2 linked regions of the Homo sapiens genome follow. The protein of the gene in region 1 interacts with the protein of each later gene in a pairwise test. Each region holds a gene or a part of one and is shown in the gene's direction. Other genes may lie near its edges.

Region 1 (4,050 bases):
AACCCCGGAGGGCTCAGAGCGCGTGTGATGGTCACACACAGGCACCATCCGGGATGTGGCCACCTACCCCCAGCTGTCTCTTGGGAAGACAGACGTCTCCCGTGTGCTTGCGGGGAGAAGGGGGGTGTTATTGCTCTTTGCTCCCAGAACACAACTCACCCCCACCCGCCCTCTCAGGTGTGAGCTACGTCCCTCCAGACAGGATCTCTGGCCACTGCCTGTTCCTCCTCTACACACAGCAGCTTGGCCAGGTCAAAACCCTCAGGACAGACCCCTGGGTATCTCAGCACATGGAGGGCTGAGCCCATCATGGCCACGGAGTAAGTCGGGATGAATCTCTCCAGCTCTGAACCCCTGCTCTGTCCCAGGCTCCTCCTCCTGCGTCTCAATAAGTCATGTCCCGCGGGATTCCTGGGTAACTCCCCACTTCCTCCTGCACCACCACGGGGAAGGTGTGGTGACCACAGGACAATCAGCTCGGCAGAGAAGAAAGGACATCAAAGATTGTCAGGAAGAACATGAGAAACCAAGAGCTCCAGCTCAGCTGCCAGACCCCATGGAGTCACAGAGTGACCGAGAACTTTCCCTTTGACTATGGGACTCACAGCCCCCACTGAGCAACCAGCACAGGCCTCTCCTCCCAGGAGGCATGAAAGATTCACCCTGCACACCTCCAGGAAGGACAGTTTCCTCTGGGAAACCCAGGTCCTCAATGTCCATCCTTGGAAGCTGCAGCCAAGCTAGACACGATTGGAGAAAAGAAGGGTCCCTCTCACCAGGCAACACACAGCTCACCCACAGCACAATGGGGTGTCACTCTGACAGGGACCTGGTGCAGCTCCAGCCTCCTGCACTGAAGGGGAGAGCCAGACGGGGATGAAAGAGGGCAAAGGGTGTGAATGTGCACCCCGACCAAGAGCAATGGGGACAGCAGGAGGCTGAGGCCCAGGACTCTGCTTGCCCAACCTGCAGGGTATGTGTCTGACTGTGTGGGTCTGTGTGTGTCTCTTCTGTGTGTGTGTGTATGTGTGTGTCCGCACAAAGTGTGTATTGAGGTTTGGTGAAAGAATCACTGCTGAAAAAGGCAGAGGCCTCCACAATTCCCAGGGACCTGAAACACAGACAAAAGGAAAAACAGAAGGAGGGACAAGGAGGCAGGGCTGAGAGAGGAGGGGACAGAGAGGTGTCCTCGGCCTGACCCTGCCCATGAGCTTGAGAAGTGCTCCTTCCACCGGGAAGAGTCTCAGCGCAGAAGGAGGAAGGACAGCACAGCTGACAGCCGTGCTCTGGAAGCTTCTGGATCCTAGGCTCATCTCCACAGAGGAGAACATGCACGCAGCAGAGATCATGGGGCCCCTCTCAGCCCCTCCCTGCACAGAGCACATCAAATGGAAGGGGCTCCTGCTCACAGGTGAGGAGAGAACTTCCTGGGAGAGGACAGGAGGAGGAAGCAGAGTGACTGGATGGGGTCTCCTGGAGAGGCTCCTGGGGTTCTAAAAAATAAAAAAGCCAGCATTTAGGGAGGCTGAGGTGGGTGGATCACGAGATCAGGAGTTCAAGATCAGTCCAGCCAACAGAGTGAAGCCCTGTCTCTTCTAAAAGTACAAAAAATTAACCAGGTATGGTGGTGTGCTCCTGTAATCCTAGCTACTCAGGAGGCCAAGGCAGGAGAATCACGTGAACCAGGGTGGCGGAAGTTGCAGTGAGCTGAGATAGTGCCACTGCACGCCAGGCTGGGTGACAGTACGAGACTCCATCTCAAAAAAAAAAAAAAAAAAAAAAAGAGAAAAAAAAAAAAAAAAAGGAAAGAAGGCCCTGTTGATGCCTGGATAGGGGAAAATACACCCAAGAGGGACAGGGGTCAAAACAGGAAAGTCACATTGAACCGGAATTGGTAAGAGGTAGGAAACAGGTGTTCTGTTTTCCTGATTAATCATCAGGGGCCACCACATTTTGAAAAATGATAATAATAACTATATCAGATGACACTACAAATAAAAATAAACAGGGCATGAAACACTGTCCTCAATAAAAAACCTCAACAATTGGGGAAAAAAAAAAAAACACCCAGGGCGTGGACGGCCCTGAGAACTCTCACATCTACAGGAGTCTGCAGCCTGTTCCAGGCACTGGGGTGCAACCAAGATCACAAAAGTCCCTGTCCTCACGGAGCTCATGCTGCCATGGGGAGGAAGTCAGACATGCAAAGAGATCTAGAATGTGAGGTCAGGTGTTGACAAGAACCCTGGAGGGAGCAGAGCAGGGAAAGGTCAGAAAGGGAAGACCCAGAGTCCCTGAAGGAGGTGTCAGGAAAGAAGTCTAAGGATGCCCTGATGTGAGCAGGACCTGAGGGCAGTGTGGAGGGGGCCATGCGGACCCCTGGGGAAGAGGATTCCAAACAGAAAAATGCCAAGGTCAGAAGTGTTGAAGGAATGGGGGTCATGCTGCTGACCTTGACCTAGTAGGACAGTAGAACACACACACATACACATACACAAACACACATGCCCCTTTTCTGTGTGTGTATGTTTGTATGTGTGTGTGTGTGTGTGTGTGTGTCTTCAAGGCTGAGGATTGAAGAGACCTTCTCAGGACTCAGGGCCCCATCTTTTCACCCCAATACATAGGTCTCAATATTGACTGATGCTCTCTCCACCTCCTAGCATTACTTTTAAACTTCTGGAACTTGCCTACCACTGCCCAAGTCATGATTGAAGCCCAGCCACCCAAAGTGTCCGAGGGGAAGGATGTTCTTCTACTTGTCCACAATTTGCCCCAGAATCTTACTGGCTACATCTGGTACAAAGGGCAAATCAGGGACCTCTACCATTACATTACATCATATGTAGTAGACGGTCAAATAATTATATATGGACCGGCATACAGTGGACGAGAAACAGTATATTCCAATGCATCCCTGCTGATCCAGAATGTCACCCGGGAGGACGCAGGATCCTACACCTTACACATCATAAAGCGAGGTGATGGGACTAGAGGAGTAACTGGATATTTCACCTTCACCTTATACCGTAAGTGATTCCACATGATCCCTGGGTGTTGGGGGACAGGGGTCACTTCTACATCACACACACAGGATTGTCAGGCCTGGACATTGCCTGTGTCCCTCTCTGCATTATGTCCCATGCTGGGGTTTGGGCATTTAGTGCAGGACACACACAGAGGAGACAAATTTCAACAGATCAGAATTCCTTTCCCGCATCCAGACCCTGCAGACACTCGCTGCAGAGGAAGGACAGTCTGATGGGGGGACTCAGCAGGAGGAGATCAGTCTCAGCCAAGCACCTCATGCCCTCTTCATAAATTTGACCCTGAGAAAGACCCTGGAGAACTGAGTAGAATTTGACCTGAGGGGCCCCTGAGATACTCTCAGAGAAGCTCAGCCCTAGAAGCCTCAAACCCAGAACTCTGTACCTAAATCCTTGTTCCAGATAAAGCTGAGGAGCCTGTTCCAGGGCTGGGTTGTGGCTTCTTGGGCAGGGCTTACTGGGACCAAGAATTTACCAGCTGTCTGAGGACTGTGTCTCCTGGAGCTGTTCACCAGCCAGGGCTCAGCCCTCAGAGCCTCATCTGGGCAAGGACAGAGCTTTCTTCACCTGACACTCAGAGTGGAGAGGACAGAAAGACAAGCTTTGTAGGTCATCAGCCAACTGCCTTAGGAGGCTTAGGACAGTCCATAGAAAGTCTAATGTCCTCAGAAGCAGAAACAGAAGAGAGAAGATGTACCTGGTAGCAGCTTGTCCACAGGGATCTGACGTAAAGGTGCTTTCTCATGGAAGCAAATTAATAATAAATGCTGCTTGTGTGAACACCTCCACTGTGCCAAGCATTAGGTCAGGTGACTGTGAATAATTTAACATTTATTCACAGATAGCATGAAAAGCCACAGTCCATTTGCCATTTAACTTATCTGATTGAGAGAAAACTGAGGCACAGGAAGGCACAGTCACTGAATCAGAGTCACACAAACGCAAAGGGGAGATCAGGGTCACATGAGGTCTGTCTGCAGCCACAGGCCCATCCTCTCCTCCA
Region 2 (4,154 bases), on another chromosome or scaffold:
GCCTCAGCCTCCCGAGTAACTGGGATTACAGGCACGCACCACCATGCCCAGCTAATTTTTGTATTTTTAGTAGAGCCAGGATTCCACCATGTTAGCCATGATGGTCTCGATCTCCTGAGCTCGTGATCTGTCCACCTTGGCTTCCCAAAGTGGTGGGATGACAGGCGTGAGCCATGGCGCCCGGCTTTTTTTTTCCTTTTAAAAAAGTGTTTGGCTGGGAGAAGTGGTTCACACCTGTAATCCCAACACTTTGGGAGGCCGAGGCAGGAGGATCACTTGAGCCCAGGACTTCAAGACCTGCCTGGGCAACATAGTAAGACCCCATCTCCAAAAAAAAAAAAAAAAAGTAAATTAGCCAGGCGTGGTGCTGCACACCTGTGGTCCCAGCTACTTGGGAGGCTGAGGTGGGAGGATCACCTGAGCCGAGGAGTATGAGGCTGCAGTGAGCCATGATCATGCCACTGGATTCCAGCCTGGGTGACAAAGTGAGACCCTGTCTCAGAAAAAAAAAAAAAGGCTGGGGGGCCTGGGCTAGGATTATGCCTGTAATCCTAGCACTTTTGCAGGTAGATTGCTTGAGCTCGGAGTTCGATACCAGCCTGGCAACATGGCAAAACCTGGTCTCTACAAAAAACATAAAAAATAGCTGGGCGTGGTCTGTAGCTGTAGTCCCAGCTACTCAGGTGGCTGAGGTAGGAGGATCACCTTAGCCCGAGGATGTTGAGGCCACAATAAGCTGTGGTCATACCACTGCACACCAGCCTGGACAACAGAATGAGACCCCATCTCAAAAAAAAAAGTTTTTTATTTTGAAATAATTTTAGGTTTAGAGAAAAGTTGAAAAATAGTAAAACAACAACAACAACAAAAAAACAACAAAAAATCCCAAAACCCCCAAAACTCTCATTGACCCTTATCTCAGATTTCCCGAATGCTTACCACCCTCGCTACATCATTCAAGTTCTTGGAAACATTTAAAGCATGTGAAACATTTAAAACATTTAAGTTGGAGGCTTTAAGTTGCACGTCCTTTATTTCTAAATATTTCAGTGTGTTTTTCTTAAAAAAAATTTTCTCATACCACAGTAACATGATCAAAATTGGAAAATCAACATTGATTCAATACTATGATCTACAATCAAGGTTTTTTTTTTTTTTCAAATCCCTGGGTCTCTGCATTTTTTAAAAGCTTCACAGATGATTTCAATGGATACTAGGGACCTCTGTTGCCTCCTCTGGCAGAGCAGGACTGAGGGGTGGACCCTCCCTGAGACCACCCAACAATTCAGGGTGGAGTTATCAGGGCGCCCTGACTCCTGGGGGCATTTTTGTGTGACGGGAAAAGACAATGCTCCTGGCTGAGTGAGATGGCAGCTGGCTTGGCAAGGGGACAGCACCTTTGTCACCACATTATGTCCCTGTACCCTACATGCTGCGCCTATACCCAGGACCGATGGTAACTGAGGCGGAGGGGAAAGGAGGGCCTGAGATGGCAAGTCTGTCCTCCTCGGTGGTTCCTGTGTCCTTCATTTCCACTCTGCGAGAGTCTGTGCTGGACCCTGGAGTTGGTGGAGAAGGAGCCAGTGACAAGCAGAGGAGCAAACTGTCTTTATCACACTCCATGATCCCAGCTGCTAAAATCCACACTGAGCTCTGCTTACCAGCCTTCTTCTCTCCTGCTGGAACCCAGAGGAGGTTCCAGCAGCCTCAGCACCACCTGACACTGGTAAGAAATGCAGATGATCAGGCCTTACCCCAGACCTATTGAATCAGAAATTCTGGAGTGGTGCCCTGCAGCTTGCATTTTAACCAGCCTTCAGGTGCTTCTGATGCATGCTCAGGTTTGAGCACCACTGGCCACAGGGAGGCCTAGGCAATTCAGCCTTCCTCTGGTTGAATAGCTGGAGAATTGGGAATATCAGTAAATACTTCCAATGCACCTGCTACATGCCAGAAAAAGGAAACAAGAAGACGCAGTAGGTCTGAGAAAGTGATGGGGTGAGCAGAAACCCAAAGCTTATAGAAGGCCATCTGAGTGGCCCCTCAAGCCGGTGAATTGGCTTTAGGGTTTACTGAAGGAGGTGGAAACCTCAGCCTGCTTCTCGTCCGGGTTGTTAGAGGAGTCATTTAGAAAGCTGTACCATTCTTTCAATATTCTCACGGCTTTCCAGTGCTCATTTTTCCTGCTCATTTATGGATTAAAAAAAATGCCTTGGCTGTATGTGTAAGAAAACAACAATGCAAGTTTGTAGAGAAAGAATCTGGGCCTTACAGGTCACGTTGGTTTAAAATTTAGACATCAAGCAGCTTAGAGACCATGTTGCCAAATAAGCTTAGTAAATGCTTTCTAATGCTTACGGAACTGTGGCGCTTTGTGCTTGCCATAGTATATATAATTAGACAAATGAGAGAACACAAAGGTTGAACCCCTTCCCTCTCTTAATTTTTGTTTTTTACAAGCAGATTTAAAATTCTGGCTCATAATGTCCTTGATTCAATGTTAAACCATTTTGCCTAAATGGCAGCATGTTCTAAATGTGAGCGCGCTCAGCTTTTCAAGCTGCTCCCGAGTGACAGAAATTGACAAGCTGTCATTCAAGACCTTTCGGTGGCTGCCTGGGGCTCTGTTTGAATTGTATCTGTCTGATACTTTACCATGGAGAGTGAAAAATTTGATCACATGCCATGCTTTTAATTTTCTAAAGCAAATATGTTGGAAGGAGCCAATTAATGCAAAGATGGACTGCTGGTCTCATGCAACTGATTTAGGGGAAGGGTTCGCCTAAATTAATAAAAGATCTGAATTATAGATCTTAACAAATACATAGAATGTAAAGGCTTAAAAGGAAACTGAGCAGCAGCAGGCCTGGGGTTGGCTTTTAAGTATCTATATTTAACTAATAGACATGAATGTTTTGATTTGATATTAGAAATGCTAGTGCTGGAGTCTCTGAGCCTACTCTGGCTCGAGAGGATGCCCTATCTAAAAAACAAAAAACAAAAAAAAAAAAGAAAAAAGAAAAAAAGAAATGCTGGTATTGTAATTCTAAAGTGCTTCAGAAATTCTCAAAAATAGGCCAGGCATGGTGGCTCATGGCTGTATACCAGCACTTTGGGAGGCCAAGGTGGGCAAATCACTTGCAGTCAGGAGTTTGAGACCAGCCTGGTCAACATGGTGAAACCCCATCTCTACTAAAAATACAGAAATTAGCCAGGCATGGTGGCAGCACCTGTAATCCCAGCTACTTGGGAGGCTGAGGCAGGAGAATCGCTAGAACCTGGGAGGTGGAGGTTGCAGTGAGCCAAGACCGCACCACTGCACTCCAGCCTGGGCAACAGAGTGAGACTCTATCTCAAAAAAAAAAAAAAAAAGTTCTCAAAAGTATTTTGAACTTCCTCACCTTTGTCCTATTTTGGAAGGAGGGGGTCTACATTGAAGAGATCATACAGAAATAAATTAATTGTTACAAAAGGAATGGAATGTCTATACTTCTTACCCTATTGAGTTACATTAACTGCATCTTCAACTTAATTTAAAGTGCTCCTCAACCTAAAATATCGTCATGTGTCTTTAAAAATGCATATTACTAAATCTATTTTTTTTTCAGTCTATCATCCACACTGCAGCAAGGTGATTCTGCCAAAACATATCTCCTTAAAAGCCAACTGGAGCTTCTCATCAGCATCAATGTGAAGCCAAAAATCCTTAGGAGGACAGAGGGAGTCCCTCACAACCTAGACTGGTCCCCTTCCCTCCAGCTGCCTCAACTGTCCACAGGACTCTCTTCCCACCTGCGGCCACACTGTGCAACCTGGAATTTCCCCACCTGGGCGGACTCATCACGTCATCACCAATTGGATGCATCTTCTGCTCTGTGCAGCTGGTGAAATCTTTCTCAACCCTTGAGATGCAGCCCAATCTTCTCCTAACATCTGGATTCCTCTCTGTCACTGCATTCCCTCCTGTCATCCTGCCTTTGTTTTCTTGCCCTCCTTTCTCTCCCGGGTGATAGGCATTAACTAAAATTAAATAAAAATTCAGATCATCCTTGCACTTGCTGCATTTCAAATGCTTGGCAGTCACATGTAGTTAGTGGCTACCCTCTTGGACAGCACAGATAGAGATTATTTCCATCACTGCAGAAAATTCTAGA

Evidence for each region. The genes of interacting proteins can lie anywhere in the genome.
Region 2: the proteins of PSG11 (region 1) and ARMS2 interact in a two-hybrid assay, tested with the Homo sapiens proteins (one study listed by IntAct).

Annotation. Positions count from the first base shown.
Region 1 is NC_000019.10:43,023,670-43,027,719, reverse strand, and holds the start of PSG11 (pregnancy-specific beta-1-glycoprotein 11 isoform 1 precursor), read left to right. Parts: upstream 1-1,250; 5' UTR 1,251-1,347; coding exon 1,348-1,411; intron 1,412-2,663; coding exon 2,664-3,029; intron 3,030-4,050.
Region 2 is NC_000010.11:122,453,299-122,457,452, forward strand, and holds ARMS2 (age-related maculopathy susceptibility protein 2), read left to right. Parts: upstream 1-1,354; 5' UTR 1,355-1,429; coding exon 1,430-1,726; intron 1,727-3,608; coding exon 3,609-3,635; 3' UTR 3,636-4,054; downstream 4,055-4,154.